2 linked regions of the Homo sapiens genome follow. The protein of the gene in region 2 interacts with the protein of the main gene of each other region in a pairwise test. Each region holds a gene or a part of one and is shown on either strand. Other genes may lie near its edges.

Evidence for each region.
Region 1: the proteins of BLMH (region 2) and LRP1 interact in binary tests that used the Homo sapiens proteins (3 or more experiments, as listed by UniProt).

What each region holds. Positions count from the first base shown.
Region 1 is NC_000012.12:57,131,483-57,135,129, reverse strand, and holds part of LRP1 (prolow-density lipoprotein receptor-related protein 1 preproprotein), read right to left. Parts: intron 1-3,647. UniProt on the Homo sapiens protein: Endocytic receptor involved in endocytosis and in phagocytosis of apoptotic cells. Required for early embryonic development. Involved in cellular lipid homeostasis.
Region 2 is NC_000017.11:30,281,942-30,285,588, forward strand, and holds part of BLMH (bleomycin hydrolase), read right to left. Parts: intron 3,540-3,647; coding exon 3,447-3,539; intron 1-3,446. UniProt on the Homo sapiens protein: The normal physiological role of BLM hydrolase is unknown, but it catalyzes the inactivation of the antitumor drug BLM (a glycopeptide) by hydrolyzing the carboxamide bond of its B-aminoalaninamide moiety thus protecting normal and malignant cells from BLM toxicity.

The sequences.
Region 1 (3,647 bases), on a different chromosome or scaffold from region 2:
GTGAGGTGGGTGCCCTTGCGGCCCCCCTCTCACACATGGGGGAGCTGAGGCACAGGGTGACTGGTAACTGAGCAGGTGGTTTCCTCATAGGTCATGGGATGCAGCCGGGTTAAGAAAGGAAACCAGGCCGGGCATGGTGGCTCATGCCTGTAATCCCAGTACTTTGGGAGGCCGAAGCAGGCAGATCATGATGTCAGGAGATCGAGACCATCCTGGCTAACGCGGTGAAACCCCGTCTCTACTAAAAATATGAAAAATTAGCTGGGCGTGGTGGCAGGCGCCTGTAGTCCCAGCTACTCAGGAGGCTGAGGCAGGAGAATGGCGTGAACCAGGGGAGGCGGAGCTTGCAGTGAACTGAGATCGCGCCACTGCACTCCAGCCTGGGCAACAGAGCGAGATTCCATCTCAAAAGAAAAAAAAAAGAAAGAAAGAAAGGAAACCAGATGGGCGCAGTGGCTCCCGTCTGTAGTACCAGCACTTTGGGAGGTGGAGGCGGAGATGGGCGGATCACTTGAGGTCAAGAGTTTGAGACCAGCCTGGGCAACATGGTGAAACCCTGTCTCTACTAAAAATACAAAAATTAGCAGGAGGCGGAGGTCGCAGTGAGCAGAGATCACGCCATTGCATTTCAGTCTGGGTGATGGAGTGAGACTGTGTCTCAAAAACAAAACAAAACAAAAACAAAAAACAAGGAAGGGAAATTGCAGGGAGAACGCTGTCGTTCTCTGGCCCTGGCAGTGGGGAGAGGATTTTAAGGGGTGGCCTTCAGGGCTCCTCAGAGAGGAGGGAAGGGCATAGGGGAGACAGAGAGGAGCAAGAATGGGACAGAAGAAGGGGAAGACAGGCAGGAGAAGAAGAAGGAGAGATCTAGAGAGGAAGGAGAGAGAGCGAGTTTGGAGGAAGAACACCAGGACACAGGGGCCGTCTGTTCTCGGCTTTGCCTGAAGATGAATGTGACTGCCATGCTAACTTGGCCAACACCCTGCCCCACCCCCCCAAACCCAGGCACCCAGCCCAGCCACGGTCCCCAGGGCCACCAAGCTGGAGCCAGGGCAGGAGGTGTAGAGTTGGGTGTGCGTCCAGACACAACACAGACCCCACTGCCCTGCTTGACCCTTGGCTGTCATTCTGTGTCCCATTCTGGGACCTTGGGGGTGGGGAAGTGGGGTGAGAATGCCTGGCCAGAGAGGGTGACAGCGAAGTCCAACCCTGAAGGAGTCTTCTCCAGAGGAGGGGAACCCATCCTTTGATACCCCCTTGAGGGAGCGAGAGCAAGGAAGAGAGCTAAGACCTTAGAGGTGCTTCTTAAAGGACAAGGAGACTCAGGGACTGCAAAAGCATGACAGGGACTCTTGGGGCCCTTTTTAAGAGTGGACACAGCAGAAGGAGAGATAGGCTCCCCTCTGAGCTAGGTGAGAGGGGGGTTCTCTAAAGGGAACCACATGATATAGCTAAGGGAACAGAGTGGGAGGAGGATGCTCAAGGTGCGGGGGGTGGGGTGGGGGGGCGGCGCGGGGACAGAGCCTGCAGGAATCTGAATTTTCGACCTTATGGGGGTGGGGCAGCAAGGGCCTCCCAAACCCAAACCGAGAGGTTTTCACTGAATTTTTTGTATTTTGGGTGTTGCCCAGTGGCTCTTTCCTGAGGCTCAGACACATTTTTGTCATTCCTGAGTCTGGGCCTCTGCTTTGCGGCCTGGACAGACAGACAGACAGGGTGGCTTGGACAGCCAGGGGAGGGGAAGGGTCTCCGCTTCCATTCTGAGTCAATATTGATGCAGCAGGACATTAGCCTGACCCGTGACCTCCCCCACCAGCTTTTCCTTTCCCCACAAATAAAAGCCAGACCCCCAGAAGGCCTCCAGAGGTCACCATATCACTCACCAGGCATTTCTAAGCCTCCTCTCCTTCTCCCCCCACCCCAGCCACACACACAGCTTATGCTCACCAGAGTAAAAGCTCCAAGTTCTTGACTCACTCCTTACATCTTTCTCCAGTTCTTAGGCTCCTGGTCAGGAGGAAGTTCTGCCAGAAGTCTAACCTCCCTCCTTCCTTCTGAAATACCTCCTTTCTCCCTCTTAGCCCACAAAGGGTATCAAGTTCCTTTCTTCCAGAAACATTCTCTCCAAAACCCATTCCCCAAATTAGTGGAGGGGGAAGAAGAAAGAGGAAGTCGGAGGAAAGTGGAGAGGAAACTTTTGGTGCTGAACTGGACACTGGGTCTGGCCAGGAAGGGGGAAAAATAGCCAAAACAGAGGGGAGGGAGCCAGGGGGTGAGTGGGAAAGCCCAGAGAGACTCTTGCTCCCAAGAAGCTTTTGGGATACCAAGAGGCCTGGATGGGGGTAAATGGAGACAGGCAGAGAAAAATAAGACAAGTGACAGAGACGCAGAAAGCAGGGCAGAGAATGTCACAAAGGTTCGGCAGTAAGAGATGAACTGAGAGGGTGAGAGACAGAGAGGTTCTAAAAAGCCAAGACAGCGCACACTAATGACAGACAGACAGAAAGACAGACAGACAGCCAGAAAAGCCAGGAAGGGGGCTCAGTCCAGAGATTGCCAAGGGGATGACACAGTTGTCCTGGGATGAACCCAGAGAATGACTACCCCGCTGAGCCTAGAGTAGGGTGGGAGCAAGATCTGTCCTATCTTGGAGAGACAGAGTCTCGGCCCTAGGCAGTGCCTGACTCAAGGGAGACCCAGAATAGGGACCACTACCACCCCTGGAGTCAGGAGGGTAGAAAGGAGGGAGGAAAATGGAGCTCTTCAGCCAGGGAAGCTAAGGCCTGGTGGGAGAGGGAGAGGCTTTCATCTCCCCTAGGGGAGCAAGAGGGACAACTCTCCACATATACCCCTCACCTCTTTCCCAGGGAGGGTTTATATTGGTGCCTGAGGCCATTGCACCGGAAACACTCCAAAGCCAACTGCTTCCTTCTCCAAACAATGCAGGATCCTGCTAACCAGGCTGAAATCTGGGACAGAAGAGGGAGGCAGGTTCTCTATCGCTCATACCCAGCACTACCAAGTCAGGGGCCTTCCTGCAGTACCATTCAGCTGCACCCAGATGCCCCAAGAGCAATGAGCCCACACGCAGAGCTGGAGGACCTGAAAGGTAAAGAGTCTGAGGAGTGAGGAGGACCCTGAGAAGAGAGTACTGGGCGGGAATAAACCTAGGCTTGGGGGTTCTGATGTGCAAGGGCTCACACTGCAGCAGGAGGAAAGAGAGATAGACTTGAGTAAGGAAGGGCTTCCCAAAAGGTAAGGAAGGGGTTTTGAAGAATGGGGGCATCTGGACAGGAACTGACTCTGGCCAGGACCTGGGCTGTCATCCTTTGGGAGGCTCAGTGGTGGAAGGGTGGTTGAGAAAATGAAGAGAGGAGAGAGAACAAGATCAGAAGAAAAAGATGTCTAGTGAAGCAGCCCTAAACATCAAAATATCCCTCCAACCCCAAAATGAATTTCTTACACATTCTTGCTTTAAAAGACAACGAGGCAAAGGGAGACGTTTAGGATGTGAGTCTGATCAGGGAGAAAGGAGTTTAGAACTTTCTCTCAGGGATCCAGGAAGCTAACACCCCAGCTTCATAACTCACTTCCACTGTACCTACTCTAGTAACTGGTAATATGCCGGCTCAAGGGGGTGTGTGGAG
Region 2 (3,647 bases):
CCTATATATTGTTTTCAATAGCTGACAGCCACTGCTATAGAATTTCCTAAGTCAATCATAAAGGCTTCTTTTCCCTTTTTGTGGCACTGACAAATATTGGTTTTGGTCTTTGATTGACTGATCGATTGATTTTAGAAATGAGGTCTCACTAGGTTGCCCAGGTAGCACTTGAACTCCTGGGTTTCTGGACTCAAGTGATCTGCCTTAGCCTCCCAAGTAGCTGGCACTACAAGTGTTACCACCATGCCTGGCTATGTTTTGCTTTTTAACAGACAAGGTTTTTTTTTTTTTTTTTTTTTTGAGACAGAGCCTTGCTCTGTCACCCAGGCTGGACTGCAGTGGCACAATTTTGGTCTCCACCACCTGCAGGGTTCCGGTGATTCTTGTGTCTCAGCTGCCCAAGCAGCTGGCATTATAGGCATGCACCACTATGCCCAGATGTTTTTTTCGTATTTTAGTAGAGACGGGGTTTTGCCATGTTGGCCAGGCTGGTCTTGAACTCCTGGCCTCAAGTGATCCATCTGCCTTGACCTCCCAAAGTGCTGGGATTATAGGCATGAGCCACTGCGCCCAACTGAGAATACATTAATAATCTTAAGGGGATCCGCAGGCTAAAAAAATGGACACTGAGATAACATTGCAATAGAGGTAACTACACATCTCCAAAACAGATCTGCCTTGCCTGTCATCTCAACAAGCAGCCTGCGTCTCACTTCTCAGTAAGAATGCCTTTAGCATAAACACATTTTATTCAAAGCTATCTGAGCTTCACGGCTGTTGATTAAGCCATCATTTTGACTTGCCTACAAGGTTACACAAATCATAGGTACTAATTTGGGGCTTTAAAACTGCAGCTAGACTCTTCATTACCAAAGAGTCAGGTTCAATGAAAAGAAGTCATTTGGGGGATTGTAAAAATTTTAAAACCTTATACACAGGGCCAGGTATGGCGGCTCACACTTTATAATATGCACAATCTTTGGGAGGCTAAGGTGGGAGGACTGCTTGAGCCCAGGTGGTGGAGATCGGCCTGGGAAATATAGTGAGACTGAATCTCTACACAATTTTTTTAATAAATGAGCTGGGCATGGTGGCATGCACCTGTAGTCCCAGCTACTTGGGTGGCTGAAGCAGCATTTGAGCCCAGGAGTTGAAAGTTACAGTAAGCTATGACTGCGCCTCTGCACTCCAGCTTGGGCAACAAAGCAAGACTCTGTCTCTAAGGGGGAAAAAACCCTTACACACAGAATTCTGTAGTAAATAGTTTAGGTAGAATCATTAAGTAAATAATCCTATAAAACATTCATACTCAGGATTTGGTAAAGTTGGATCTACTATTTCTCTGAGGCAGGAGTAGGGGAGGAAAAAAATATGTGAAACATATCTGCCCTAATTCTTACCAGCCAATTACCACGCTCTACCAATGATGAGGACATCAATCTTAGACACATCATTAGTTCAAAGATCATTAAAGCAAACATCAAAAGCCAAAAGGATGCTTATTATCTACAGCAAGTATTATCTGGGCCCTTTTCCACAACTGTTTGCAGAACCTTCATTCCTACTATACCTCCATCTTTTTTTTTTTTTTTTTTTTTGGAGACGGAGTCTCACTCTGTCACCAGGCTGGAGTACAGTGGCACAATCTCGGCTCACTGCAAGCTCTGCCTCCTGGGTTCAAGTGATTCCCCTGCCTCAGCCTCCCGAGTAGCTGGGACTACAGGCGCATACCACCACGCCCAGCTAATTATTTGTATTTTAGTAGAGACGGGGTTTCACCATGTTGGTCAGGATGGTCTTGATCTCCTGACCTTATGATCCGCCCACCTTGGCCTCCCAAAGTGCTGAGACTGCAGGCATGAGCCACCGTGCCTGGCCCCCACCATCTTAATCTAACCCTAAATAAAGGCAAATTATGTAGCAGATATAGCCTCTGCAAGACAGTCATTCCAAGCAAGAAGGGAAGAAGTAACATTTACAGAACTCCTGCTACGTGCCAGGCACTATGCCTTGCATGCTTACATTTAATCCTTGATTCCCCAAAAATCCAATAAGGAAAATATTTCAGATCCTGACTGAATCTCAGACAGGTTAAGTAACTTACCTAGGATCACAGACTGTTAAGTAAAAGAGTCAGAATTTAAACCCATGTATGTCTGACTCCAAAGCCTATTTTTTCCTACTATACTAAGATGCCTCTCTTCTGTAAGAATTTAAGAGATAAAAATGAGATTATTTAAATGCATTTGGTAAATGAAATTTCTGCATTCGTCCACTCAACAAATACTTAAGAAACAGCTATTGTGCCAAGCACTAGGCTAGACATGTTAAATATGAACTGAGCCTTTAGAGCTTAAGGAACTTGTCCCAGGATATAAAGTAATGAGAAGACTAGAGCTCAGATAGCCTGACTTCAGAGATTACACACTCCACTGCTCCACTATGCTGCATCTCTAAGATTTAAAGGAAAACACAAGTGAAGCATTAGTGTTTTCCATCGCAGTGAAAAAAAGTAGGCCATTTTAACTCCATACAGTCTTGAAAGGAAGCCTAATAAAGGGCCTACTGGCTGACAAACGGAAACATTTATTCTTTCCTCAAACCAATTGCAGTTTTATGCATATTCATTCTGGACATGGATAGTATTAATAATAAAGTTTCTTAACTGTCTTGATCATAAATAATATTACCACCTCATATTTTAGTGCTTTTTACATTTTCTAAAATGTTTTTACATACATTAACAAATATAACCATCAATAGCTCCGTCTTTATTTCTACAGAAAGAAGCCAAATGTTCTGGCATCGATCCAACATCCCTTACATCTCTGCCTTTCTAGCTTAATTTGCTACCCATCATACTGAAAAAAGTTATGTTTCAGCCACATGATTCCCTGAAGGTTCTATCTTTGTTTATGGCACTGTTCATACAATTCCTTTTGCCTAGAATGGTCTTGTTATCTACCTGGTAAATTCTGACTACTCTTTCAAGAGCTATCTTCCCTATGAAAGCTTCAGCTCACTGAGCTAGTCACTCCCTCCTCTATGACCACCAAATCAGTTTTTACACATCTAGCATAGGATTTATCATCATTATAGATGTGTTTTCTTTTTCCCAAGAGACTGAGCTCTTTAAGAGCAGTGACTATGTCTTTCTCATCTGTTTCCTCAGTGCCAAACTCATAGAAGGTATTTAATATTTATGAAATGATAAAAGAATGATTATACAGACCACTAAACTACGAATTAGAAAATCCAAGTCCAAGTCCTACACTAAAAGGCAAAGTAAGTTTTAAGCTCAGTTTTTTCAGTGTAAAATAAGTAATTTTCAATTCAATTAAACATTCGTTGCCATGACTAAAGCTTCCTAATCATTACTTTAACAGATGGGAATATTCTGAGAGTTCCTTAGAGGGGTCACAAAAAAATCCAAATTTTGTTATTACCTCCTCCATCATGACGTCCTGTGTGGCCGAGATTTCTCCTTTGGTTGCTCCACTGTGTACCAGGTTCCGCAGTCGTATACAGAATTCTCTCATCTATGACAGAAACTTATTCAGCACTCCAACAGTTACCCGAATTCAATTGTAAATGACTCTCATAGACCAACGCAAGTTCTATTTTGAGGTATAACTCAGGCCAGACCC